Homo sapiens: one gene and its partners. The protein of the gene in region 2 purifies or fractionates together with the protein of the main gene of each other region. This does not show direct contact. Each region holds a gene or a part of one and is shown on either strand. Other genes may lie near its edges.

The links.
Region 1: the proteins of NCAPD3 (region 2) and TPD52L2 purify together in Homo sapiens (co-immunoprecipitation; one large-scale study listed by IntAct). This does not show direct contact.
Region 3: the proteins of NCAPD3 (region 2) and DSC2 purify together in Homo sapiens (co-immunoprecipitation; one large-scale study listed by IntAct). This does not show direct contact.
Region 4: the proteins of NCAPD3 (region 2) and FKBP11 purify together in Homo sapiens (co-immunoprecipitation; one large-scale study listed by IntAct). This does not show direct contact.
Region 5: the proteins of NCAPD3 (region 2) and M6PR purify together in Homo sapiens (co-immunoprecipitation; one large-scale study listed by IntAct). This does not show direct contact.
Region 6: the proteins of NCAPD3 (region 2) and DSC3 purify together in Homo sapiens (co-immunoprecipitation; one large-scale study listed by IntAct). This does not show direct contact.
Region 7: the proteins of NCAPD3 (region 2) and RAB35 purify together in Homo sapiens (co-immunoprecipitation; one large-scale study listed by IntAct). This does not show direct contact.

Annotation. Positions count from the first base shown.
Region 1 is NC_000020.11:63,875,270-63,878,769, reverse strand, and holds part of TPD52L2 (tumor protein D54), read right to left. Parts: intron 2,955-3,500; coding exon 2,895-2,954; intron 1-2,894.
Region 2 is NC_000011.10:134,221,168-134,225,243, forward strand, and holds the start of NCAPD3 (condensin-2 complex subunit D3), read right to left. Parts: upstream 2,801-4,076; 5' UTR 2,760-2,800; coding exon 2,696-2,759; intron 1-2,695. Other genes in the region: VPS26B (vacuolar protein sorting-associated protein 26B), read left to right, coding at 3,956-4,076.
Region 3 is NC_000018.10:31,092,422-31,095,921, reverse strand, and holds part of DSC2 (desmocollin-2 isoform Dsc2a preproprotein), read left to right. Parts: intron 1-2,278; coding exon 2,279-2,363; intron 2,364-3,500. UniProt on the Homo sapiens protein: A component of desmosome cell-cell junctions which are required for positive regulation of cellular adhesion.
Region 4 is NC_000012.12:48,922,693-48,926,647, forward strand, and holds the start of FKBP11 (peptidyl-prolyl cis-trans isomerase FKBP11 isoform 1 precursor), read right to left. Parts: upstream 2,801-3,955; 5' UTR 2,737-2,800; coding exon 2,608-2,736; intron 2,431-2,607; coding exon of another isoform or gene 2,420-2,430; coding exon 2,354-2,419; coding exon of another isoform or gene 2,082-2,353; intron 1,957-2,081; coding exon 1,869-1,956; intron 1,565-1,868; coding exon 1,531-1,564; intron 1,161-1,530; coding exon 1,090-1,160; intron 913-1,089; coding exon of another isoform or gene 860-912; exon of another isoform or gene 434-859; intron 1-433. UniProt on the Homo sapiens protein: PPIases accelerate the folding of proteins during protein synthesis.
Region 5 is NC_000012.12:8,939,861-8,943,253, forward strand, and holds the end of M6PR (cation-dependent mannose-6-phosphate receptor isoform 1 precursor), read right to left. Parts: intron 2,683-3,393; coding exon 2,556-2,682; intron 2,081-2,555; coding exon 1,958-2,080; 3' UTR 501-1,957; downstream 1-500. UniProt on the Homo sapiens protein: Transport of phosphorylated lysosomal enzymes from the Golgi complex and the cell surface to lysosomes.
Region 6 is NC_000018.10:31,039,943-31,044,242, forward strand, and holds the start of DSC3 (desmocollin-3 isoform Dsc3a preproprotein), read right to left. Parts: upstream 2,801-4,300; 5' UTR 2,719-2,800; coding exon 2,650-2,718; exon of another isoform or gene 2,500-2,649; intron 1,893-2,499; exon of another isoform or gene 1,591-1,892; intron 1-1,590. UniProt on the Homo sapiens protein: A component of desmosome cell-cell junctions which are required for positive regulation of cellular adhesion. Required for cell-cell adhesion in the epidermis, as a result required for the maintenance of the dermal cohesion and the dermal barrier function.
Region 7 is NC_000012.12:120,110,254-120,113,753, forward strand, and holds part of RAB35 (ras-related protein Rab-35), read right to left. Parts: intron 1-3,500. UniProt on the Homo sapiens protein: The small GTPases Rab are key regulators of intracellular membrane trafficking, from the formation of transport vesicles to their fusion with membranes.

The DNA of each region.
Region 1 (3,500 bases), on a different chromosome or scaffold from region 2:
CAGACAGCGGTTTCGTCCCACTGCCAGTGAGCTGTCCCCTGGGCAGCACAGGGCATCTGGGGGACATCCTTGCACTCCCCCTCTCCTGAGTCTGTCTCTGGGGGCTGCCCCCACTCCCACTCAGGATGGACAAGTGATCCAGGCCTGGCCAGAGCACACCACCTCCAAGGCCGCAGCCATTAGTCCAGGGAGACCCATATGGGGCCACACTGTTGGGCTGCAGCAGTGGGGGCAGGGACTTCTCTGCCTGGTGAGTGCTCCCACCTCCCTGTTTGGTTGATGCTACCTTGAGTCGTGCTTTCTGTCACCTGCAACCAAAACAACTCCAAGTGAACCAGCTCATAACTGCAGGATCTATATGATGCCCCTCTCAGCACTGAGGTTTTTAGTTACCTCTGCCTATAAATAGAATGCAACAGGCAATTGTTTCACCACTCGCAGAACACAGCTGCTCTCGCATTCAGACATGACCCACTGAGAATGTGGCCGCATTGCAGCCTCATGGGGCCAGGCACCAGTGCTATCCTCCACCCACCGGCCACGTTCTCCTTCCCGTCCATCCTCCAGGGCGCCAATAGCTGAAAGGATCTACAAACACGTGGGTCAGGATGCAGGGAGCTTTTACTGCCTTCCCCTGCAGAGCTCTGGGCAGTGGAGGTACATCTACAGCCCATCTCCTGAAGCTGACTAGGAGAGGCACCAGCCAGGAAGAGCACGCGCCATGGCCACATCCTCAGGCCCCACCTCCCAAGCCGCATCCCTTCCGTCTGGGCCGTCCCGGCAGAAACCACCGCCCTCGGCCTCGGCCGTCCCGGCAGAAACCATCGCCCTCGGCCTGGGCCTTCCCACCAGAAACCATCGCCCTCGGCCTGGGCCGTCCCGGCAGAAACCATCGCCCTCGGCCTGGGCCTTCCCGGCAGAAACGCTTCCACTCTGGAACCGTCAGTTGACAGCTCTCGCCACAGAACTCAGGGGAATGGCCTCGGCCAGGTGATGCACTGGCCATATGCTTCCATGCTGAGCCACAGGTTTCTCCAGAGGGGTCGGGACGCTGAGTGTTGTAATAAGCTCTCTAAAACACTATTTATTTGAAATAGGATCCCGGCAGCTTTATGTCAGTTGGTTTTACAAAACAGCACTGAAGTCTCCTAAGACTATTTTCAGACTGAGTCTGCACTGTGCGTCCGCCTGATGCCCAAACTGCAAGGATGACCGTCACTGTCCCAACCTAGGAACCATCTGCTGCCCAGCAAAGTCACTGTTCAACAGCCCGAGACACAGCCCACCAGGGTCCCTAGAACACCCTGCTCAAGCCGGGTGCAGTGGGTCACGCCTGTCATCCCAGCACTTTGGGAGGCCGAGATGGGCGGATCACGAGGTCAGGAGATCGAAACCATCCTGGCTAACACCATGAAACCCTGTCTCTACTAAAAATACAAAAAATTAGCCGGGCGTGGTGGTGGGCGCCTGTAGTCCCAGCACTTTGGGAGGCTGAGGCAGGCGGATCACGAGGTCAGGAGATTGAGACCATCCTGGCTGACATGGTGAAATCCTGTCTCTACTAAAAATAGAAAAAATTAGCCGGGCGTGGTGGCGGGCGCCTGTAGTCCCAGCTACTGGGGAGGCTGAGGCAGGAGAATGGTGTGAACCCGGGAGGCGGAGCTTGCAGTGAGCCCAGATGGCGCCACTGCACTCCAGCCTGGGAGACAGAACGAGACGTTGTCTCAAAAAAAAAACCAAACAAACAAAAAAAACCCAGGGCAACATGCCATGAACCACCCGGGTCCCCAGAGCACCCAGATGTACAGCTGGCTGCTGTAGCCATGCCCACAAACCGCCCGGGTCCCTGGAATACCCAGGGCAACATGCCGTGAACCGCCCGGGTCCCCAGAGCACCCAGATGTACAGCTGGCTGCTGTAGCCATGCCCACGAACCACCCGGGTCCCTGGAATACCCGGGGCAACATGCCGAGAACCGCCCGGGGTTCCTGACACCAGCCTCCCACCGTGACACCAGACGCAAAGGCTCCATGTGCACGCAGTGCCAGCCTGGTCCCCCAGGACCTTCAAGACAAGCTCGGCAGCAACTGCTTCCTTTCAGACCAACATGGGAGGACTTTCTGCCCATGTTCTGTGGCAACGATTACAGCGCTTCCTTCTAAATAACAGATGAAAAAATCCCACAGAGACTATTTAAAAATATTCCCCTCCTCAGTTTAAAGACGTTATAATCAGATCAGAGCACAAGTAAATGAAGTGCTATTATCTAGTTTAAGGATCTCCAAATATTAGGAGTCACTCTGAACAACACCACTGACACACACATACAAAACTATCCACACTTGATCCACACTGGCTGATGCTCTGACAATGCAGTGCCTCCCAGATCGTGAGGATTTCAAATTTCCACCAGCATATCCTACACCATGCCCTCCACTCAAGAACTACCCCTAAAGGAGGAAAGGAATTCTGAGAACCCAACAGCTGGAGCTAAGCAGGGAAAAGGGTTAGGGTTAGAACAAACAAAAATTCGCCACCAACAAACCCAGGCCAAGTGGTGTTGTCCAGCTTGTGCACTGCCGGAAGCCAAGGAGCTCTATTAGTTAGAGATACAGCCAGGACCAGTGCAGGCCTCTTACATAAGGGACGCATATCAGGCAGAGGGGAGTTTTAAGTGTGGTCAGGTGGCTGAGTGAGTTTCTCTCAGCTACTATTCCCTGTTCCACAAAAGTTTAAAGGATAGTTTACCTGAGAGAAGAAAAGTTATAGGAAGAAAAAATAGCCAGCAAATACCAAAACAAGCTTTGTGCCAAGTGTGCACAGCCCCCTTCCCCGACTGAGTGTCAGGAGGCGGAGAGGAGGAAGGAGGAGGTGCTGATGATACAGGCACTCACAGGTCTGACTGGGTCACTTTCTCATTCCACTCTCCAAGTTTCTCAGAAGTTTTCACATAGCTAAAAACAGAAAGTCTACAGTGAATTATTTAGAAGAACAATTTTAACTCAGGCATCAAACTGCAGGTGAAGTTCCAGGGAAGACAGAGAGGGACCAGCTGGCAGGAACATCAACTCCACAGACGGCCCAAAAATGGGGTCCACTGCCTCAACCAGGCCCTGTGCAGGCCCCAGGCCGCCAGGTGAGCTGTGGGTATAGCGGAACTGATGTTCCCTTTTCTGTCACCTGGCAGTAGCCCCTGGTCTCTCGCTAGGAGATTCTTGGGCAACAGCACTGCTGTGGGGGACTGGAAGGGCACAGCCCACAGCTCCAAAACACCCTTGGGATTCAAAACTTACGATGTCCTAGGACAAAAACATGGGCCTCTCATATGTGAGATTTATGAAATGTGACCTGTTCTGTCTTTGTATAGGAACATGTCTTCTGGGAAACATTCCACAGCCACCCCAACCTTGAAGGGTATGTTTCAGAGAAGCCACGTGGACAGGGCCAAGTGAGAAAGCAGCACTCCCCAAATTCAGAGCTGAGCGACATCTGGGACAGGT
Region 2 (4,076 bases):
TAAAAAACATATATAATTTCTCCAGGAAGTTTAAAATAGAAGAGGCAACCCAGATTCAGACTCCCAGGAATACTTGGTGACTTTAAAACACACTGATTGAAAGAATGTACATTGAGAGGAGGGGTATTAAGACAGCACGCTGGCTGGATTCCACCAATCTCTCTTAACTCTAAATCTTCCCATTCTTTTCTTTTTCTTTTTTTTTTGGATAAACTTTTTTTTTTAACTTAAAGTTTTTGGGTACATGTGCACAACATGCAGGTTTGTTACATAGGTATACACGTACCATGGTGGTTTGCTGTACCCATCAACCCGTCATCTACATTAGGTATTTCTCCTAATGGTATCCCTCCCCTATCCCTCCATCCCCCCTTCCCATTCTTTTCTAATACACTATATTTCTTCAGTGTTGTCATTGTCACTTTCCCAAACTAAAATTAGGACTAGATGGAAATGTGGACATCTCAAATTATTAATCAGGTGTTCCTTCAAATTAATATTAAAAGTATTTGTTCACCACTGATTTAGAGAAGTTGGGCAAGGTATAAATAAGGAAAAAACAGAGATGGGAGCATTACACTGCACTCGGCAAATGAAAATGAAAGGCCTTACACTCAACTAGTTCCATCCTTAGAATACAATCTGGTCATCATCTTTTGTCACTTGAACTTGACCCTGAAGGAGGGGGTCTCTGTACCCTAAGTGGCTATGCACAGCATTCCTTCCAAAGACATGGAATATGCTGCCTGAAAGAAGATCTGAAAAATACAATTGTTTCTTTCCAAATTTCCAGTAATGTTTTAAAGGTCATTATAGACCACAGCAAAAGTTATCTCACTCCTTCTTTTGGTTTTGCTTATGACAGTTCCCTACTGTAAATACCATCAAATCTAATTTGGATGGCAGTAACTGGCCCTGTTATCTACCATTTGGTCACAGAAGTCTTCAGTGTTGATTGTTGAGTGAGAGTATAGGAGACACTGAGTTAGTCTTTTTCCCTCAGTATCTTTACACTATTCAAATCTCTCACTACCTATTTTCTCAGCTGTCGAATGCAGGTAACTTCTGCTCTGCTACTTCACTTAGGATGGAAGAAGAGGAAGAAATACATCACCTATTCACTCAACAAACACTTTGAGAAAATACTAGGGAAGCCACTTATACTTCTAGGGATATAAAGATGAATACTAGAGGGTTCTTGTCCACAAAGATCTCAACATTTCACACTTAGGATACCAAAAAAAGCAGCCTATGATAGAAGAGAGGCCACTGAATTTTGAGTCAGAACGAGGCAAATATCCTGACTTGATCACTTACACATAATTAGTCTCTCCTTCATCATTGGAAATACAGGATTTTTGTGAAACATAATGTGTATAAAGGCCCTAACAATGTGCTAGCCACATAAAAAACAGTCAATAGATGGTATTTATTATTTTTGCTATGGATGAGTGTTAAAATAATAGATATGTAAAATGTAAAATGCTACAGAGCTTAATAGGGAATAGTACTGGGGGAGGAGGGAGAGGAATAAGATGATTCTTCAATTGGACCTGAATGTAAGAGTTTTGCCAGGCAAATAAATGCAGAAAAGTGCCTCCCAGCAAGCACAGTGTAACAAAGCACACAAAGGGAAAGAAATTAAAGTGTTTCTAAATGAACAAAATTGTTACAGTGTTTGCTTGTGGGTATTAGTATCTGTTCAGCAGTTATTATGTGGCAAGTACAAATTTATCTTTACAAAAACCCCTGTGAGGTAGATATTGTACTCCCCATTTGACAGATCAGAAAACAGGGGTTTAGCAAGGATAAACAACCTGCACGGTAATACATGGATGCTATGGGGTAGAGCCAAGGGAACAATCCAAGTGTGTCCGACTCCAAAGGTTATGCTCTTGGAAAATCAAACTGGAGAGAATGGCAGCTCTTATAAAGCATGCCAAGGATGTGGTCATTTATTTAGGAAACAAAGGGGAAACATTAAAGGTGTACAGGCTTGACACATTCAAAGCTGTGTTTTCAAAAGTCGTTCTGCAAAAGTGTGGGGGATGGGCTGGCACAGTTAACATCAGAAAGCAGCTAAAATACTCCTGCAATTGCTCGAGGCTATGATGAAGGCAGCAGCATCAGGAATGGAGCGGGGCTGCCCTGAGACACCTCAGAGGCAGGACAGTGGTAGTGGGCATGAAAGGGGAAGCAGAAATGCCATGACTCCTGGGTTGGTGGCTTGGATGGTGCCATTAGCAGGCTTTGGGAATCCCATTTTCACTCATGTGACGTTTGATGATGTCTGCATGTGAGACATCCAGTGGAACCTATGAACATGAAGTTCAAGAAATAAGTCTGGCGGAAGAAAGAGATTTGCAATTTAAAACCATCTTAATAGGTAAGAATAGATAGGTGCACGAAGACACGCACAGGAAGAAGGGGAAGGCCGAGAAAACAGATGCACAGGCGCTAGAAGAGACTGGCCAACATTCGCTTATTCTAAGGGTGGCCTGGCCGGCTTGAGCCCCCACGGGAAACCTGGCTAGCCGCAATCCTGGCGTGGCACGGCCCTGGGGACCCCAGGCACCGCCGACAGCCGGGCGCCCCCACCCCGCCCCCACCGGCACCCCGGCCCGGGCTTAGGCATCGTCGGGGACGCATAGGACCCTCGCCCTGGCCCCCGGGCCTCCCGGCTGCATCTGCTCACCGAGTCTAAGATCCAGCGGACACCAGGGCTGCAGGCCGCTACCAAGGCCCCGCAACGCCACCATGATCCCAGGGCACCGGCTCGCCGCCGCCGTGCTCAACTTTCAAAGCTCGCTCCCGCGCGCGCGCCGAGTCGTTCCTGTGGACCAATCACAACGTACAGAATTTCCCACTGGCCAACCACCGCGCCGAGCCGTTTCCATTCGCTCAACCAATCACCGGCGTCGTCCGCCGCACGCTCAGAGAACTGGGCGGGCCGAAAAGTGGAAGCCAAACAAGGCTCCTGCGGGTGTTCCGCTAATTCGTTCGAGAAGGAGCCAGGGCCTGAGTTAAACCCTAACAGCGTTTTTCCCGCCTCGTTTTTCTTCAATGGGGGAAAATCTAAAGGGTATCTGAGATAGGGTACTTCCGGTAGTAACTGTCACCTTTGCCCTCGTCAGGCGACATTTCGCGTGCGTGTCAAAGGGCTGCCTTTCCCGTCAGCACTCGAACAGCGTAATATCCGAATGTGAAAGGCAGCCCAACGTGTATCGAGCTAAAGTAATAAGGGAAAAGTAGCCGAAAGCACTCCGAGAAGACAAGACAACTGCAGTTCTGTAGGGACTGCGCGGCACGCGTGGGCCCAGAGCCTGTCCCAGCGAGGTAGCAGCTGCCATGCCGACCGCTGGAGCGCCGGCCGCGCTCTCCCTGCGCATGCGCAGCGAGCTCTCCTCCGGGCTGCCGGGAGTCCCAGGAGCGTTAGGGGGTGCGCCTGCGCGCCGCTGCTCCAGCGCATCCGGGCTGGAGCTCGCCCGCCCCCTCCCCCGCCCGGAGCCGCCGAAGCGCCTCGGTGCGTTGCACCGCCGGAGGCTGGGCAGCTCGCAGCGCTGCTCGGCGCTGGACCCCACCCGGCAGGCGCAGGCCACCCACACCCGGCTCTGTGCGGCTGCCCCCCGCAGCATTGCACGGCCGACCCTCGCCCGCCCACTGCCACCGGCCGCGGGACTGGCTGGGACTGGCTCGGCCGAGGGCACTGCTCCTCGGTGCATTGCTGCTCGGGCGCCGCAGCCCGCAGCCGCCAGCCTCCCCCGGCCGTGCCCCTCCCCCGTGGAGCCGGCTGTCCGTCGGCGCCCACTGCCCGGCGGCAGCGGCGGAGCCAGGCAGCCCCGCGGCGGCCGAGCGCGCTCGCGCATCGGGCCCTCTGGCCTTCTTTACCTAGGGCAGCCCGCGCCCCGGTGCGAGGGAGCGGTCCTTACCGAGACCCGCCCGGCCCGGCGGTGCGATGAGCTTCTTCGGCTTCGGGCAGAGCGTGGAGGTGGAAATCCTTCTGAACGATGCAGAGAGTAGGAAGCGGGCCGAGCACAAGACGGAGGACGGGAAGAAGGAGAAATATTTCCTCTTCT
Region 3 (3,500 bases), on a different chromosome or scaffold from region 2:
TTCACATATGCCATTCTTCTGTTTGCAGCATTTAAGCTCTGCCTCCTCTTAGCCTGTCTCACTTGTAGCCGCTCTTCAGGTGACCTCACCTGGCTTTTAGATATCACTATTACCTCTGCTCTCCCATAGCTCCCTGTACTTCCCTATCATTACATTTGTCTTACTTTGTTGAAATTACAAATATGTCTTACCTTAGATTGAATGTTTCATGAGGATCATGTTTACTGCTCTGTGTGTGGTACATGATACACATTCAGTAAATATTTGTTGAATTCATGCATGAATGGATGGATGTCCAAGATACTGTTATTCAAAGAATTGTCTTAATCCAACCATTTTTCATCTTCTCCAACATTATTACCTTAGCCCAAGTAACCATTACCCCACTCTTAGATTCCTGCTGTAGTCTCCCAATCAGTCTCTTGGTTTCCACTCTTGCTCTTCTATAACCTATTTTCCACATAACTAGTAGAGTGATTCTGTATAAATATCAGTTTACGCCACTCCACAGCTTCTTCATCAGGCTGTTGCTTCTCTTTGCACTCAGAACAAAATCTGCACTCCTTACCATGACCTTTTAGACCCTACATCATTTGCCATTGACTGTCCTTTTGTTTTCTTCTCCTGTCACTCTTCCCTCGCTGTGCTCTGCTGCTATGACCACCTTGTTTCTGCAATACACAAGTCTCCTTCCAGGGTCTTTACTCTGGTTCTTGCCCTACCTGGAAGACTCTTCCCTGGTTAGAAAACTGGTTTACTTCCTCACTTCATTTACGCTCAGGTATTCTCGTTGTCACCCTCTCTCCCTGCTTTATTTTTGTCGTGACATTTATCTCTCGCTGCCTTGGCATTATGTGACATTTGTGCATTTGTGTATTTCTTTTGCTTCTTATTATCATGTAATCTTCGTGAGGCAAGGACTTGGCTTTGTTCACTGCTCTAGCCATTGAATCCGTTTAGCACCTACTAAGCAACCAGTAAATGTTGGTTGAATGAATAAGTGAATGTATTCTTCCAATCACCTTGAGCTGGAATCTTCAGAATCATCTGATTCTACTCCTATTCTCTCTTGGCTATGCAGCCAGTGAAAATTCTTCATATCATTTAATTTCCAGTTCAAAACTAATGTCTTCATTGTGTCTATCCCAACATTCCAAATGAAACACAACCTCTGCCTTATTTGATCCTTCAAATGTAATTAAAACTGGATAATTTAAGTCTTTAATATATATTAAAAATAAACATTTCCATCCAAATTTTGATGATTTTAGTTTATATTTATAAACTTTGTAAGTAACAGTGTAAATGCTAGTTAACTGTCTTGCTTTTGGTCAAAGATGTTTGTAAAACTAGAAAAAAAGAATGTGAATCTTTGAGAAACATCCATTGTAAAGTTTCAGACAGAACAAAATTAAATTTCAGTGTGTTTACGTATATGTTGCATTGGACTTGGTTCACCATGAATCACTAAACCATTGAAAATTTTTAAGTAAATTATTTTCTAAAATGAACTTAACTTTTATTTATGAGAAGATACACCTTCAAAATAATTTTATATTTCAAAGTTATGTGCCTATTGTGTGGAGTAACACATAAATATTCTCCAAATCACTTCATGGCAATAAGTTAATGTTTGTCTTTAAAAGCATTTACTTTTTGTTTAGGATATTATTGATTTGATATCATATCTCATAAGCAATTAAAAATGTACTGAAACAGTTTGCTGCCTCAGTAAATTTGGTTTTCTCTTTCCTATGTATATACCTGTGCTGCCTTCCTGATAGTTTTCAGCACTCTCCCACCTAGGCTGTTGTTGGATCGTCACTGTACCCACTGAGTTAATCAGTGAAGTTATTACATACGTTTTACAATATAGTAAACAAAGCTGAAGAGCATACATAACTCTTTGAGTTTACAAGCTTTTTGCAGGAGGAAGCTAGAACTCAGTATATTGTTTTATTCTTCTCCTTGATATATTTTTGTCCTGATTTCTTTCTCCAATATGTTTTTATTTTATCTCCAATATTTTATTTATGTTTTATTTATAATAACATAAATCACATATAATTATAAATATAAATTCATGTATTTATATTTAATTAAATATTTTAAAATTAATATTTAGTGTAGTCAATATGTAATATAATTAACATTTATATAAGTATTATATGCCTTTTTATGTGTATATCATTATAAATTTATAATTTATATAAATAATATACACATTAAAGTTTTCTTTTTATGCATAATATTTATTTGATTTTTTTTCATTTTTTAGATCTTAATATTTGCCAGTGATGCCTGCAAAAATGTGACATTACATGTTCCCTCCAAACTAGATGCCGAGAAACTTGTTGGTAGAGGTAAGGAAGCCCTAAAATTTGTAATAAATCCTGTTTTGCTGTGGTACATATACGCCATGGAATACTACACAGCCATAAAAAGGAACGAGATCTTGTCCCTTGGAAGGGATGTGGATGGAGCTGGAAGCAATTATTCTCAGCAAACTAACACAGGAATAGAAAATCAAACACTGCATGTTCTCACTTATAAGTGGGAGCTGAGCAATGTGAACATGTAGGCACAGAGTGGGGAACAACACAAGTGGGGCTTGTTGGGGGTTCTGGGAGGGCGAGAGCATCAGGAAAAATAGCTAATGCATGCTGAGTTTAATACCTAGGTGATGGGTTGATAGGTGCAGCAAACCAACATGGCATGTGTTTACCTATGTAACAAACCTGCACATCCTGCACATGTACCCTGAAACTTAAAATAAAAACACACATACAAAATAAATCCTGATTTGCTGTGGTATTTTAAAATTAGTGTAATTTTTAGAATGATAACTCTGTTGGGACCAGTAGATAAAACTAATGTAGTATATTATCATTTGTAATATTTGTGGTGTCATTCTAATGAAAGGAATATTGTTATTTTTGGAAAACATGATTATATGAAGTTGATAAAAATATTTCACTTGAGTAATAATTATTAACATTTACTTTAGAGAAAAGATAAAGACATTTAACATGCCTCTAAAAAATTGAGAAATAGTACTGAAACTGTTTTTTTTAGTTTAAAGATACTGTTTTTGGATTTTTATTCTTAAATATTTCACTCTGTATTGTATTTTTTTATCAATTAAATTATTTCACATAATTCTGTAAGAAAAGATCAATCCAATGATAGCATAAAATGTGATCACTGTTTAGCAATAGATGTAAAGAATTTAGTAATATTTTCATTTAGCAAATGCCAATTTTCATCTGCTAGATTCTGTATAACTTCAGGTGTATTTAGGTGTTACTCTATAGCTTATTTCTGTTGATAAAGAAAAAAATTGTTTTGGTTTTGGTTTAAAGATTCAAACACTGGAGCTCACATATGTTTACTTCAGAGCAAATGTCTCTTCTTTAAGAGAATGTTAAGTAGGTATTAGAAGTGATGTAAGTATTTAAGCACAACTTAATTCACCATATAGTTTTATGTGTCCTTTCAAA
Region 4 (3,955 bases), on a different chromosome or scaffold from region 2:
GCTTAAGAAGTAAAGGGGCAGGTGGAACAGAAATGAGTGGGCAGAAGAGGTACAAATAAGCAGCACTGGGAATGGGGAGGTAATAGGGCTTTGGGTAAAAGTTTCTCCTTGGTCCCCCTACCCTCCTTCCAGGCCTTCCTCTAAGCTGGAACTAGGATAAGAATTAACGAGCCCAGCCAGGCGCGGTGGCTCATGCCTGTAATCCCCGCACTTTGGGAAGCCAAGGCAGGCGGATCACCTGAGGTTGGGAGTTTGAGACCAGCCTGGCCAACATGGAGAAGCCCCATCTCTACTAAAAGTATAAAATTAGCCGGTCGTGGTGGCGCATGCCTGTAATCCCAGCTACTCGGGAGGCTGAGACAGGAGAATTGCTTGAACCCGGGTGGCGGAGGTTGTGGTGAGTGAAGATTGCACTATTGCACTCCAGCCTGGGCAACAAGAGTGAAACTCCATCTCAAAAAAAAAAAAAGAATTACGAGCCCAATACTCTGTGGAGTACAACACATTTTAGCTAATAGAACATTTGTTAGAACTGAAAGCAAAAGATATGCATCTTGGGAAATCTGTCCATCTCAACCCTTCAAAAATAGACATCGGCAGTGACCAATGATGGCTTTTAAAGTTATGGGGCAGACTTGGCTTTAACAGTTGCTTTTTGTTTTGTTTTGAATCACTTGACTGTGATTATTTTTACTGTCTCTTCCCTGATGGAGGCTGAAAGGAAGGGGTGGGGGGTGGCTGTACAGCTGACACAGCGTAGAGTTGTAGAAAAGGGCAGGAAAGAAGTCCAGTGTTCTGGGAAAGGTGGTGGCACAGGCAGCAGACCCATGTGGCCCAAGCAGGTCTCTTCCCTAACAAGTTACTGGCTGCTGGAGGTCATGCCAGGTGGCCTCATCAGGTTGTCTTTAGTCCCTGTTGGTGATATGAGGAGGAAAAAGGTGGCCCTGTAGATGGAGGCCCCAGCCACTCCTATCTGTCTAAACAAACTTGGTCTGGATCTTCTCAAGCATCAAACAAAGTATATAGCTCCTTATAGCTCTTAGGGACTGGGTATTTTGATGGCCTGAGAGAGAGTCCTAGTCAGATTACCTGGGACAGATGGTGGAAATCCCCGTTTTCCATAGGCCAAGTGAGAAGGAATGATTGCCCTTCGCTTCTCTCTGAGGGAAGGAATGTCAGTCACAGCCAGAGGCAGGAGAGGTAGGCCAGCAGCCTCAGTCCAGCTGAAGCTCCTTCAGCAAAACCCCCTGAATCTTCACACCCAAAACACGAATTTTTCCACCTGAACACCAAACAGGCTGGCCAGCAAAGGTGTCCATCTCCCCATGTGCCTCAACTCCCCCGACAAAAGCAACAGCGCAAGAGGCACAGAGGCTTTGAATGCCCTCAGAGGTCCCACTGACCTGGACCTGTCCAGTGGGAAGCAGGGTCCTTTATTCCACATTCTCCTGCTTAAGGAGTGAGGATGGCCGAGAAAGCCTCTACCCATGCAAAGGGGGTACCCAGGCCCACCCCTGCCGAGATACTCACCCCACACACATGTCGAGAAGACTCTGCTCCAGACCTTGAAGAAGAAGACACAACTGAACTGGAAGCTATCCACCTTCCCCAAATCCCATGACATGAAGATCAAAGTCTTCCTCCTCCATCCTCAATTGACCTTTCCCTCACTTCTTAAATCTCTGGCTTCCAATAGGATATGGGACAAGTGGAGTACTAGAAGTGAGGTTTGAACCTCAGGAGGTAACTCGTAGAGCCCTAGGGTCTTACTCATTTCAGGGGGGATTTCCAGGGCAGCTTTGGAGCCGAAGAGGCTAAGAAAGGGCTTAGGTTGGGAAGAGGTGGAATGGGAGGCACAGGTCACATACCTGGAATCACCTGCTTTTGGCCAAGTTCTATAACCAGAGGGTCTCTGGTCAGGGAGGTGTCAATAATACGTCCATCTACCAAGCTTCCCTGGGGGGAGAGAGCATCAAGAGCATACATCTAGCACCCTCTCCCTCCCAGCAGGCGCGCAACACACACCTGGACCGCTGGGCGGCGGCAGCCCCCTTAGTGCGGCAGCCTAGCGTTCCCCTTACCGCTGTAAGGAACAGGAAGCCCCAGAAGGCTGGCGCTTCTCGGAGATCTCTCCACCCTGCACTTCTCCGTGCCAGGTAGGAACTGGCAGAAAAGCAAGGAGGGAAAAGAGGCACGGAAGAGCAACGTCTCTCCCCTCGCCACGTGCTCGACGACCCCAGAGCCCCGAGTTTCTTCTCCCGAACCGCTTGCCACGTGTCCAAGCCAAAGCTGACGTGTTTCAGCAGGGCGCCGCCCCCTCCCAGGCCCCGCCCCGGCCCCCCAGACCCCTCACCGTGTAGTGTATGTGAAGCGTGTCTCCAAAAGCAGCGGGCTCGGCACATGGTTCTGGGGGCTCCACCTACGATCGGACTACAGGGGTCACGGATGCTCTTCCAAAGATCCCGTTCTCGCCCCTAGACCCGGCACCACCCCCAACTCAGTTCCCGCACTTCCTCTCCTCCCGGCTCCCAGGTTCGCTGAGACCCCAGTATTACCACCCAACAAGGCTCGGCCCACGGGGGCTGAGGGTCGGGACTATCTCCTCACCAGGGTCTCCACTTGGAGGGTCCGGACGGGACTTTCGGTTTCGAGCCCAGCCTCAGCCCGGCACACCGCCGCACTGAGCAGCAGCAGCAGCAGCAGATGGAGCGGGAGGAGTGAGGGGCGCAGGGTCATGACTGGGCGCGGGGCAGGGAGCCGGGGCACCAGGACAGGCTGTTCGGGTGGCGGCAGCCAGGACAGCGTTCCCGCGGCGCCCAGGCCAGACTGGACGGGACGGGGCGGGTCGCGATGCTAGAGCTCCTCCTCCTGCAGCCCTTCCTCCACCTTGTCCCCACCTCCGAAAGGGAGGAGGCCGAGGGGCGCCCTCTGTACCCTCCAAGATCCGGAGGGCGCAGGTTCTGACGCATCCGTTAGACGTTCTGTCCTATAACGTGGGTCGGGCCAAACAATAGCACCCATTTACGATTACCTACTGTGTGTCAGGAGCTAGTCTCTAATCCTCAAAACCACCCTGAAAGGTCGGCATGATTGTTTCCATTTTACAGATAAGGCACAGGGTGCTCAGGATGTGCCCAAGGTCATCAGGCTAGGTGGTGACAGAGACAGGATTCAAACCCAGGACTGCCTGAGTCCAACGTGGTTGCTGTCTGTTCTTCCAAGTCGTCTCCTTGTGGCTATCCTGGCAGTGTCTGGCTGGCAGACCCCACCCAGGCAGTTCTCATTCCTCTCCGACCTCCAGCTACTTCAGCTTGAATTTCTGGAGGTTATAGATCCAAGTATCCGAAATAAGGCAGGGGGCTGTCCTATCCCTGTCCTTTGAAAAGCTAGCTGAAAAGAGCAAGGAGCTGTTATCCTGTAAGAACAGGGTAAATCCCTGATCTTTTCCTCTGGTGCTACTATTTCCTTTCTCCTTTCATCAACAAACTTCTCAAAGGGCAGCACACGTAATCCATTTATGTAAAGACTTCACTTTTTTTTTTTTTTTTTTTTTTGAGATGGAGTCTCGCTCTGTGGCCCAGGCTGGAGTGCAGTGGTGCCATCTCCACTCACTGCAACCTCCGCCTCCCAGGTTCAAGCGATTCTCCTGCCTCAGCCTCCCAAGTAGCTGGGATTACACCCGCCACCACGCCCGGCTAATTTTTGTATTTTTAGTAGATAAGGGGTTTCACCATGTTGGCCAGGCTGGTCTCAAACTCCTGATGTCAGGTGATCCGCCTGCCTCGGTCTCTCAAAGTGCTAGGATTACAGGCGTGAGCCACCAGATTTCTTTTTTTTTTTTTTTTTTTGAGGGGGAGGAGTTTTGCTCCTGTTGCCCAGGCTGGAGTGCAATGGCGCGATCTTGGCTCACCGCAACCTCTGCTCCCGAGTAGCTGGGACTACAGGCATGCGCCAC
Region 5 (3,393 bases), on a different chromosome or scaffold from region 2:
CCAATGGGAGAGGTAGGGTTTTTCTAGCTTGTGTGACAGAAGTAGCAAAATCTGGTCCTCCCCCCTCCCAGTGTAGCTGTGGCTCAGAGTTTTTTCTTTTTGTTGTCACTTACTCCCTTGTGATTGAATTTTTTCTCCTGCATCCATGGCAGGATCCCCAGCCAGTATAGAGACTTGGTTGGCATCTTCTGCTGCAGGGACTAAAAGTATTTGACTGGGGCACATGTGGCTGTTGTCATTCTTTCTGCATCCCACTGTTCCCCTCCAATTTATGTTATTTTCTACCCTGTTTTTCAGTTCCATCTCTGCTCTGTCCTATAGCTTTATAAAACCAGAGTGTGTGGGGCTGAGGTCAGGAGTATAAGTACCTGCCTTAGGCACTATTCCTTATATAACAAAAATATTAAATATTTTTTTCCTCAGTAAAAGGATGAAAATTGGTTTCAGTTGTCTTACTCTATTCCAGTCTTTGCCCACTTTCACACAAATGACAAGGCCAATATGTTTTGTTTGTTTTTTAATCATTAAGAGTTTTTGTACAAAAGGTGATGGTTTTTTTTCTTCATTTTAAAACACCAGGGTGTGGGGGAGGGATGCAAACAAATAACAAAAAAGATGCTTTTGTAACATTATTTTCCCTGTTTAGAAAGAAAAAAATCACTCCAATAGTATTGAAAAGTCCAAAGATGAAATAGTTTCATTTTCTTTTCCTAAGGCTTATAAAAGGCCCCCTGCCTGTTGATTCCATCCCTCTTTTGTGTCCAGTGGAGCCATGTTACTCTTCAGTGGCCCAGGGGTTCACTATTAAAGAAAGATCAGTCCAGGTTTCTGGGCACATGGCCTAAACAGGAAGATGGAAGCATCAGAGGATTAAAAACCTTTCCCCACAGAAATGTGGGCAAGAAGACACTTCCCTGAGCCAGCAGAAGGGACAGGTGCAGCAGCATTCCACACCCAGCGCAGAGGACAGCAGAGCCCTCGATGTCCCACTTCTGCTTCCGTTCCCTTTCTAGAAGATTGAAAAAAAGGTCAAAACCACATGCCTGTGGAGAAAGTGCGACATGTTTAGAAATACTGGTAGGGAACCAGGAGTAAGAAAAGCTTTACCAGCTTTTACTACAAATGGATGAAAGACATCAGGATCCCACCACCGCAAGGTAAAGTGACTTCCCTTTTCTGGAACCCCTGTGGCACAGGAGTACCAATTTTCCTTTCCAACGAACTGGATTTCTGGATAGGCATTTTGGCTGTATGTGGACAGATAAGACCACAGTCCTTAGCCCAATCCCAGCTATACAGTCACCCCAATTTCCACAAATGATGTGATGGTACCGTATAATCCTGTAATTGGGAAATTTCACATTTTTCCTGTCCTAATCTCAGAGGTGGGAGAAGCAAGTCTAGAACATCTCCAGGCTCAGACTAAACGAGAGTACTTGGACTGCAACCAAGTAATCACTGCAAAGTAGTTCCAAGCAGCAAGAAATACCAGATTCTCATGGAGGCTACTATAGGGTACAGAATAACAACATGAAAGCAATCAACCCTGTATAAATAATGTTTCTTGGCATTTTTTTTTTAATTAAAGAAATCCAGTGTCTCAAAAACTTGTGAAAATGTGTTTAAAAAACAAACGGCCAGTGAGCCTGCTACACCATTTTGCCCATATGCCTATTGTAACTTCTGATGTCAAGAGACAATGCAAAAGCCTCTGTTTTCACAGGCCCTATTATATTAACTCTGACTTACAACTGTACCTCTCTAGAGAAAAAACAGAAAATAAGGAACAAAGGGAAGGCAGTTTTACTAGTGAGAAGATGCAAATCAAAAGCAAACTGGAAAGCAAGAGCAATAGTAAGGGTGAGATGAGGGACTGGAGTTGAGACTGCTTGAGAAATCTGGCTGTGTAGCTTTGGTTTGGGGGACTGAGGAAGAGGCTGGACATATAAAGTGCAATCTACATTGGTAATAAATGGTCATCCCTTTCTTCTGACTCCTCCCCCAGCTGGTCATCCCCCACACCACGATATGCTGCAGGCACATTTCGAGGTTTAGAACGGCAGACAAAGTCACAGCCATCCTGTAGGGGGAAAAAAAAGAAGGAAATAATTCGCAGCATCTAACTTTAGGATATGAGAAAGTGTACTTATGGTCTAGGAATGTGGCAAGAATTGGTTTTCTATAGGGATAATGAGAAAACCTAAAAGATCTGACAATCAGCCTAAATTCAATTTGGGGCAACAGGAGAAAAAGTTTCTTCTTATTAGGCCTCACCTTCTTCCCACCCAGGCCCTCTTAAAAGCTAAATCAGATTTAGAAGAGCCCATCTGGTCAACAGTGTTGCTCTTTCAGCAATGTCTTACCAAGGCCAGAAATGGATGCTGTGCCACTTACTACTCTGTACTAGGGCAACTGTCTTGTTTGCTGGGACTTTTGTGGTTTTAGCACTCAATGTCCTGTGTCCCAGGAACCCCCTCAGTGTGAACAAACGAGGATGGTTGGTCACCCAACCTTGTTTGCAGGCTACAAATTCAACCAGCTGCCCTGTTACTTACTGCTACCAGGTTGCCAAGATCCTGCCAGAAGGCTAAGTGGGGAAACTGCTCCATTCCTTTGGCTCCCACTACCAGTCGCTGGTATAGGAACCCCCCAACAACATAAACAGCAACCAGTGATGCAAACCTGTAGAGAGAGAAAGACATCTATACTTAAGAACTGGGAAATAGTAAAAACTCAGATAGGATAACCTCTGCATTTATTGTCAGCTGTTTCCTAAGATACATTCCCTGAAAAGGAAAAATGAGTAGTGATACTAAATGAAAAAGGGGGCTGGTAACTCTTAGAAAACCAGTTAGAGTGCTGTCAGTCCAAGAGAAGCAAAGGCCCAGACAAAATGTGACAGCGTGTGATTCTATGGCCAAGAATAATCACCATTAAGTATATGATTCCATTTCTCTAGAAGTTCTCATAATCTAATGAAATAATATAAAAATTGCCTAGTCCTGCAGTAGGGGAAAAAAGCACCTCCAAATGCAAATCTATACCGGCAACTAAACATTAAATCTCATTTTTCAAAAACTTGCAGTCAGAATTTTTTTTTTTTTTTTTTTTAGACGGAGTTTTGCCCTTGTTGCCCAGGCTGGAGTGCAGTGGTGCGACCTCAGCTCACTGCAACCTCCACCTCCCAGGTTCAAGTGATTCTACTGCCTCAGCCTCCCAAGTAGCTGGGATTACAGGCATGTGCCACTGTGCTGGCTAATTTTGTATTTTTAGTAGAGACGGAGTTTCATCATGTTGGTCAGGTTGGTCTCAAACTCCTGACCTTAGGTGATCCATCTGCCTTGGCTTCCCAAAGTGCTGGGATTACAGGCGTGAGCCCTGTGTCCTGGCAGA
Region 6 (4,300 bases), on a different chromosome or scaffold from region 2:
TCACAAATGTAAAAGCCTTTAGAAATTACTATACTCCCTTTTAATTTAAAATGATGAATATATCAAATATTACCAAGAGCAAAAACATCACAAGTTTTTCTGGTAAGGACTCACATTATTCACATTAACCCTAACAAATATAAAAATTTGGATGCCTATTTATCAACATAGGTTGCAGGCAGAGTTCATATACTCCAAAGAGGAAAAGTACAGATTTGAGGGGAGTTATTGCAAACGTTTCAACTATTTTAGTTCCTTTAGAAGAGGAGCCCTTTTAACAAAATGATGGATTAGCCGTGTCCAAGTATGTGCCATTTATAATGTATACTAGATAACATAATCTTAAAGTGGATTTGATAACAGTATTAACACATATTTTTAAAAGAATCTTATTATTTGTAACAGGCAGAAGACAACTGATCTCATGTAAATTAGTTTCCACCATCCCTAACAATTCTGGTTACATTAAGAGGAAAAAACACTTTCTGAGGCAATCAAAAACTTACAATAGTGAGTGAGATGCTCTGATATACTTCTTTTTTTAGTATCTCCCTGTCATTTTTTTCTTTGTGCGTGTGATTATTAGAAACTGTATTTACACTTCAGAGTGTGGTGGGGCACACGGTGGGAAGGAGATACAGGAAAAATGCAGAATGGGAAAATTCCCTCAACCTGTTGGGCTGCTTACTGGGAAGACTAAAATTTAACAAGTCTCAGATTCTTGTTAAAGACTTGCTTTGAAAAGCTGTCTCCTTAGAACAAACAATGTTTTAAAGATAAGTAATGGTTTAAAGATATCCATTAAAGTCTCTATAAAATGAAAAATGTTTCTAAAATGCCGTGTCATTAATATTATATTGAAAAGTTGAGAGTCGTATGAGTCAAAAGGAAGGAAATACATACATGAGATGGTCAAGAGAAGTGTTAATTTACCCATCCGGTCCGAAATTGCAAGTGTTTGTAAACTGACAATTGCAGATGAAATAGTCATTTTCTGTGCACTTTCCGGTATTTAAGTCTCCAGATACAGCATTTAACCTAAACTCAACGGAATTATTTTAAAAAAAAAAAATCTTAAACGAGTATGTGCTAGATCAAAGCTGAAGCTTCCTCCGTTTAGATTTACGCGCACCTTCTTCCTTGCCACAGCTCGACACCCCCACCCATGCCTTGCCGGGAAAGCTCCTGGTCTTCCATGGCCTCTGGGAGCCTCGAGCGAATGCGAGAAATTCTGAGAGCAGCACCCGTAGTTTCGTTCCCCATCCTCAATCCCTTCGCAAAGGAAACACAAAACCCCAAATGCATGCTTGTAAACTGAAAAGCTGAAAATGCTTTTAAATATATTACAAAAGAACACATTCTCTAAGCCGTTTCCATTTGTAGTCACTTCATAAGCTCAGATACTTTGTTGGAACAGTTCCCGGGCAAATGGATGCGCTTATTTGTCCAATTCCTTCTCCATAAACATATCGTAGATCATAACTACCAATCCCATATTCATACCTCGCTGACCTTAAGGGAGGACAACCCTTGGACCCACTCCCACTTGCCAGGGTGGAGGGCCAGGAAGCAGTAAGAATCCGCGAGACCAGACTCGGCTCACTGCCGACGCGGGTATAGACCTCGCTCCCATCGGACCCCATGCGCATCCATGGATGCGGGTAAGTCGCGGGTCCGCGGCTCCTTTCTGGGCGTGCGGAATGAAACTCTGTTGAAGCCTGAAGCTTCGCGTGTAACCGCGCCGCCAGAGTTCCGAACACTTCAAGTCTCCCGTGTTCTCAGAGCATCGTCTCTAACTTCCTCTCCTAGAGGATTTCGTCCTGGGCGGCAGGTTTCCGTAGACTCGAAACCCCAGGCTGTGCTCCGGCCGCGCAGTCCTCCCCGGAGCCGGAGTAAGTACGACGCAACCCCACCGCATCCATCATCCCCCACCACTGTCACCCTCTACCCGCCTCCACACCTCGGCAGCATCCCCAAAACACAACACGACCCCAACCCCCATTCTGGCCCGGTCTTCCCACACTTTCGCGCCCCCGGCACATCCCGCCCCCAGCTGGGTGGCTGGCGGGGGTGGACCGCTTGGGTGAGCTTCTGAATACCCTTTAGGGGAGATACCGAGAAACCCACTTCTCAGGGGCAGCCCCACCAAGGGACCCAGGGACACAGCCCCGGCTCCACTCACTAACGAACCAATCCGGGTCAACTGCGACCCAGAGCTGGGGAGGGGGCAGCCCCTAAATCCCTTTTCAAGTCTGTGCTTTGAGCTCTCAGGGATCCTCTCCACCCAAAGGCGCCCTCCAACCACCATCACCACCAGCTCCACCACCTGGGGAGAAGCGTGAATCCCAACCCCCTGCCCAACCCGCGACGGCGCCCGCCAGAGCGCAGCGAAGCCTGAGCGCGACTCAGAATTCCAACAATCGAACACCTTGTCTCAAAACAAAAAGCTCAGTCCAGAGTCGACCCGCAAACACACGTTTTCTCTCCTCACTCCTGCAGGCCCGAACTTGGGGCTGCTACCAGACCCGCAGCATTGATCTGAGCCGCGGTTGTCACGTTTCGGCCCGCTTTGTCCCCAGCTCCGTGCAGCGTCCAGGGCGGATCCACCCCCGTCCCCACCCCAGCCCTATCCGGCGAGATCTGGCTTACCACGAGGGTCAGCAGCAGATGCAGGCAGACGGCTCCGCGCACGGAGCGCCGGGGCCCAGCGGCGGCCATCGGGATGCCGGGCAGGGCCAGGAGAACGCGGGCGCCGGGAGGGTGCCGAGAGCGAGACCTGCCGAGGTGCAGGGCGCGGGAGGTGCTTTTCTCGCCGCTGCTTGTTTTTAAGTGTATTTGGCCTCTCTCAGGCTTGCCTGCCCGGGAGCAACTTCACTTCTGAAACCGGATTGGACCCAGAGGACGCGGAGAGGCCACTCCTTGTTATTTCTCAAGTTTTATCATCGCCGGCGCGGCTGAGGAGCTGCCCGAGCCTGCCCCTCTGCTCCCCAGCAGCCACCCGGGCGTTCGCGCTCGGGAAAGCGGTCTCTGGCGCACCCTCTGCCAGTTCTCCCACGCCCCTCGGCTGCCCCGCGGCGCTGCCGCCCCGCCCGGCCCGCAGAGAGGCCCTGGCAGCCCAGATCGTCCCAGGGCGGCCCCATCGCCGGCGCTGCGCGGTGCATCTCAATGCAGAACCCCAATCCGCCCGCAGGGATCCCTGCCTCGACACGGGCTCTGCTGGATGCCAGGAACACCCTTGTCATTGGATCAGCGGATCTCCCCTTCGACGTCTGAACAAATTCTGCCAATGTTTTCAGATTAAAGCAAAATACATGTACTGTATTCTCTCCGGATTTGACTAACATGACAAAATACACGACAGAAGGAATTTATCCCAGATGGCATGATAAACAGTTTTTGGCATGTCAGAAATTAAAACCAAATTTAAGAAATTCTAATCTAACCATTTTTACGCACCCAAAATATGAGTGATTACACTCAGCGCTCTATTAACTGTCAGTTTGGGGGACTCATATGAACCTTCTAAAAACGACTTTGTTCTTAGATGTGAATTATTGGTTTACTACTTACTGGTACCAAAATGAAATTTTTCAGGTGGTCAAAGGAATATCTACCACACAAAACCTTCTAAAACGAGGCTTACAGATTCTACATCATGCAACGACTATTTATCAGGGCCCGAAGTCGGCCAAGCTTTGTGTGAGGGCATGGAAGAAAGGAAATGCAGAAAATCTAGTTCCTGTCGGAAATAATTCAAAGTCAGAAAGGGACGAAAGACAATCATTCCTAGCCCAGTAGGCTACACTTTTTAATAGAGATGTCGTTTGTAACACCAGGGGGACATCCTCTTATTTCTCCCTAAACTGAATTTTAAGTTCCCCGAGTTCCCATCTACTGGATTCAGGAGGAAATCCCTCTCAGACATGAGATGCTACTCCTCGAAGTCCATTCAAAAGTTGCAAGGTCGGGAATTTCAGACAGCCAATTAATCATGAAAGGGTGTTATGACCTTCATTCATCTCACTCTGGCTCAAGTCTAATAGACTCCTCGTCGTCTAAGCCATGTATTCCCTGAAGTCTGGGGCTTCCCTGAAACTCATGAGGCTCAGCTTTAAGGGCTCAGACACTCTAAGTTGAGCTTCCCAGTGTGAATCTCCCAGGCACCCGTCAGTGGAGGTCTCTGTATGTAAGAGCTCTTCCAGTCTCAGAGAAAGTTCTCCAAACTTCTCTCCACTCCAGGGTTTTCACCTCCCATCCTCCACGTGCCTCCAGCATGACCTCAGAGAAAGCTTCTCAAAGT
Region 7 (3,500 bases), on a different chromosome or scaffold from region 2:
GAGCCTAGGTGTCTGTTCATGGGAGAAGCCCACAGCATTTTTTTTTTTTTTGGAGAGATAGGGCCTTACTCTGTCTCTCAGGCTGGAGGGCAGTGGTGCGATCATAACTCACTCTAACCTTGAAATCCCCAAGTACTACAGGTGTTCGCCACCACACCCAGCAAACTCTTTAAAAATTTTTTGTAGAGATGGCCTCTCACTATATTGCCCAGGCTGGTCTCAAACTCCTGGCCTCAAGCAATCTGCCCGCTTCTGCCTCCCAAGGTGCTGGGCTAACAGGCCTGAGCCACTGCATTTGGCTCCACAATTTTAATAGATTCTCAAGAAGGGCACTGCCTCCACCTGCACTCTACCAAGTAACCAAAGCGGAAAACCACTGTCGCAGTTGTATTTCCCTAAGCCTAACCCCAGCATCCTCTCTGGGCAATCCTCTAAAGATCTCTTCTGGGAGCTTCTCCTGGTGAGTGAGCTGCCCCACGATGCCCAGAAGAACTTGTTTCACTGAGTAAGCCTGGGTCCTACTTTCCTAAAGACAGGCCAGGGTGAGGCTCTCCTGGGCAGGCAGACGCTGCTCAGCCTGGGCCTGCAGGGCTCATGCTCAGGGCCACTTCCTCCTTGCTCCGCCGTGAGGCTTCCTGCTGAGCTCAAGGAGAGCCCGAGTCCCGGGTTGGGTCCTTCACGGCGCTGTGCCCAACACCAGCACCCCACTGGCCTCGCCGCCTCCTCTGCTTCCTCCTGGAGCCTTCTGGGTCCAGCTTACTCAGCTAAAAGCTTGAGTCTGGGAGTTCCTCTAGGACAGAGCCCTCGCCTCACCCGCCCTGTGCATTCACAGTGCTGTAAGCCAGGCCCAGCACTTAGTAGGTGCCAACCAAACACTGCTTAATGAATTTCTGCCTAAACGAACGCCCGCCACACTGACAGCTCTGCTATCCAGCGCTCCCACTGCAGCACAGCAGGCGCCTAAGCAGGGGTTTCCAAACTTCTGCAGGGCAGCAGAATCCTTTTCTTCATCCAAGCTTTACCCAAATCCCATGTGTAAAACAGCTCTCTCTGCAATGACACAGCAGTATCCCCTCCAGCTTGGCCTCTCCAGGTCCCCATACTGTCCCCAGGCGTCTCGGCAGAGCAGTTAAAAGCCACTAGGCTGGCCAGGCGCAGTGGCTCACACCCGTAATCCCAGCACTTTGGGAGGCCGAGGTGGGCAGATCACGAGGTCAAGAGATCGAGACCATCCTGGCCAACATGATGAACACCCCACCTCTAGTAAAAATACAAAAATTAGCCGGGCGTGGTGGTGCGTGCCTGTAATCCCAGCTACTCGGGAGGCTGAGGCAGGAGAATCGCCTGAACCCAGGAGGCGGAGGTTGCAGCGAACTGAGATCGTGTCACTGCACTCCAGCCTGGGCGACAGAGCGAGACTCCATCTCAAAAAAAAAAAGCCACTAGGCTGCAGAAAGACCACAACCATCACCACATTATCTGCTGCTTTGGACCTGACACCAACCTCTGACACTGCTCTCCCTTTGAGAGGAACAGAAACCCACCCCAAGAAACACTACCTCCTAAATATCCCTGGAAGAGGCTTCCTCGGAAACACAAGCTGCAGCCATTACCCCACACCATCAGTGTCAGGGCAGGAGCAGAGGGCACCCACCAACCTTCACCACAGCCACCCCCGAGGCTGCCCAAGGGCACATCAGCATGACCCCAACCAGTCCAGCCTGTCATTCTTTTTTTTTTTTTTTTAAATGGAGTCTCACTCTGTCGCCCAGGCTGGAGTACGGTGGCGCGATCTTGGCTGCAACCTCCACCTCCCAGATTCAAGCGATTCTCTTGCCTCAGCCTCCGGAGTAGCTGGGATTACAGGCGCCCGCCATCACGCCCAGCTAATTTTTTGTATTGTTTGTAGGGACAGGGTTTCACCACATTGGCCAAGCTGGTCTCGAGCTCCTGACCTCAAGTGATCCGCCTGCCTCGGCCTCCCAAAGTGCTGGGATTATAGGAGTGAGCTACTGCTCCCGGCCTTTTACCCCTGGCTGCTGTATCTGGTCCTCACCACGCAAGCCACACACATGTCTTCCCTTCCTCCTGCTCCTGCCTGGGCTATGGCCCCCTCACTCCTCTCTGCTTCAGTTCAACCTCTTGAAGAGCCCTGACCTTTCAGTGAACTGTTCTCGATATTTTTTTTTTTTTTTGAAACAGGATCTTGCTCTGTTGCTCAGGCTAAAGTGCAGCAGCGTGATCATAGCTCATTGCAGTCTCAACCTCCCAGACTCAAGAGATCCTCCCACCTCAGCCTCCCAAGTAGCTGAGACCACAGGCGTGCACCACCATGCCCTGCTAATTTTCTTCTTTTTGTTGAGACAGGGCCTCCCTATGTTGCCCAGGCTGGTCTCAAACTCTTGGGCTCAAGTGATCCTCCACCTCGGCCTCCCAAAGTGCTGGGATTACAGGTGTGAGCTACCGTGCCTGGACCTTTTTTTTTTTTTGAGACAGTGTCTCATTCTGTCACCCAGGCTGGAGTGCAGTTGTGTGATCCTAACTCCCTGTAACTTTGAACTCCTGGGTTAAAACAATCTTCCTGTCTCAGCCTCCCACATAGCTGGGACTATAGATGTGCACCACCACGCCCAACTGATTTTTTTTTTTTTTTTGAGATGAAGTCTCGCTCTTGTCCCCCAGGCTGGAGTACAGTGGCACGATCTCGGCTCACTGCAACATCCGCCTCCTGGGTTCAAATGATTCTCCTGCCTCAGCCTCCCGAGTAGCTGGGATTACAGGTGCGTACCACCACACCCAACTAATTTTTTGTGTTTTAAGTAGGGACAGGGTTTCACCATGTTGGCCAGGCTGGTCTCGAATTCCTGACCTCAGGTGATCTGCCCACCTCGGCCTCCCAAAGTGCTGGGATTACAGGTGTGAGCCACTGTGCCCGGCCTTTTTTTTTTTTTTTTTTTAAGAGATGGGGTCTCGCTATCACTATGTTGCTCTCACTATGGTCTCGAGTTCAAGTGTTCCTCCCGCCTCATCCTCCCAAAGCACTAGGACAAACTACTGCCCCCAGCCATGTTCTCAATTTTAAACCTGCCTCAGCCACCACCTCACTGTATAACCTCACACAAGTCACGCCCCCTCTCTGAGCCTCAATTTACTCATCTGTCAAGTGAAGGGCTAACTCCATCTCCAAATGAGGATGGCTGGCCTGAGGGATGCAGACGACATGCTGTTACAAATCAAAGCCAGTGTCAGAGAGTATAAGGGAAAGTATAGAAAATACAGAACTGGCCGGGCGCGGTGGCTCACGCCTGTAATCCCAGCACTTTGGGAGGCCGAGGCGGGCGGATCACGAGGTCAGGAGATAGAGACCATACTGGCTAAAATGGTGAAACCCTGTCTCTACTAAAAATACAAAAGATTAGCCGGGCATGGTGGTGGGCACCTGTAGTCCCACCTACTCGGGAGGCTGAGGCAGGAGAATGGCGTGAACCGGGGAGGTGGAG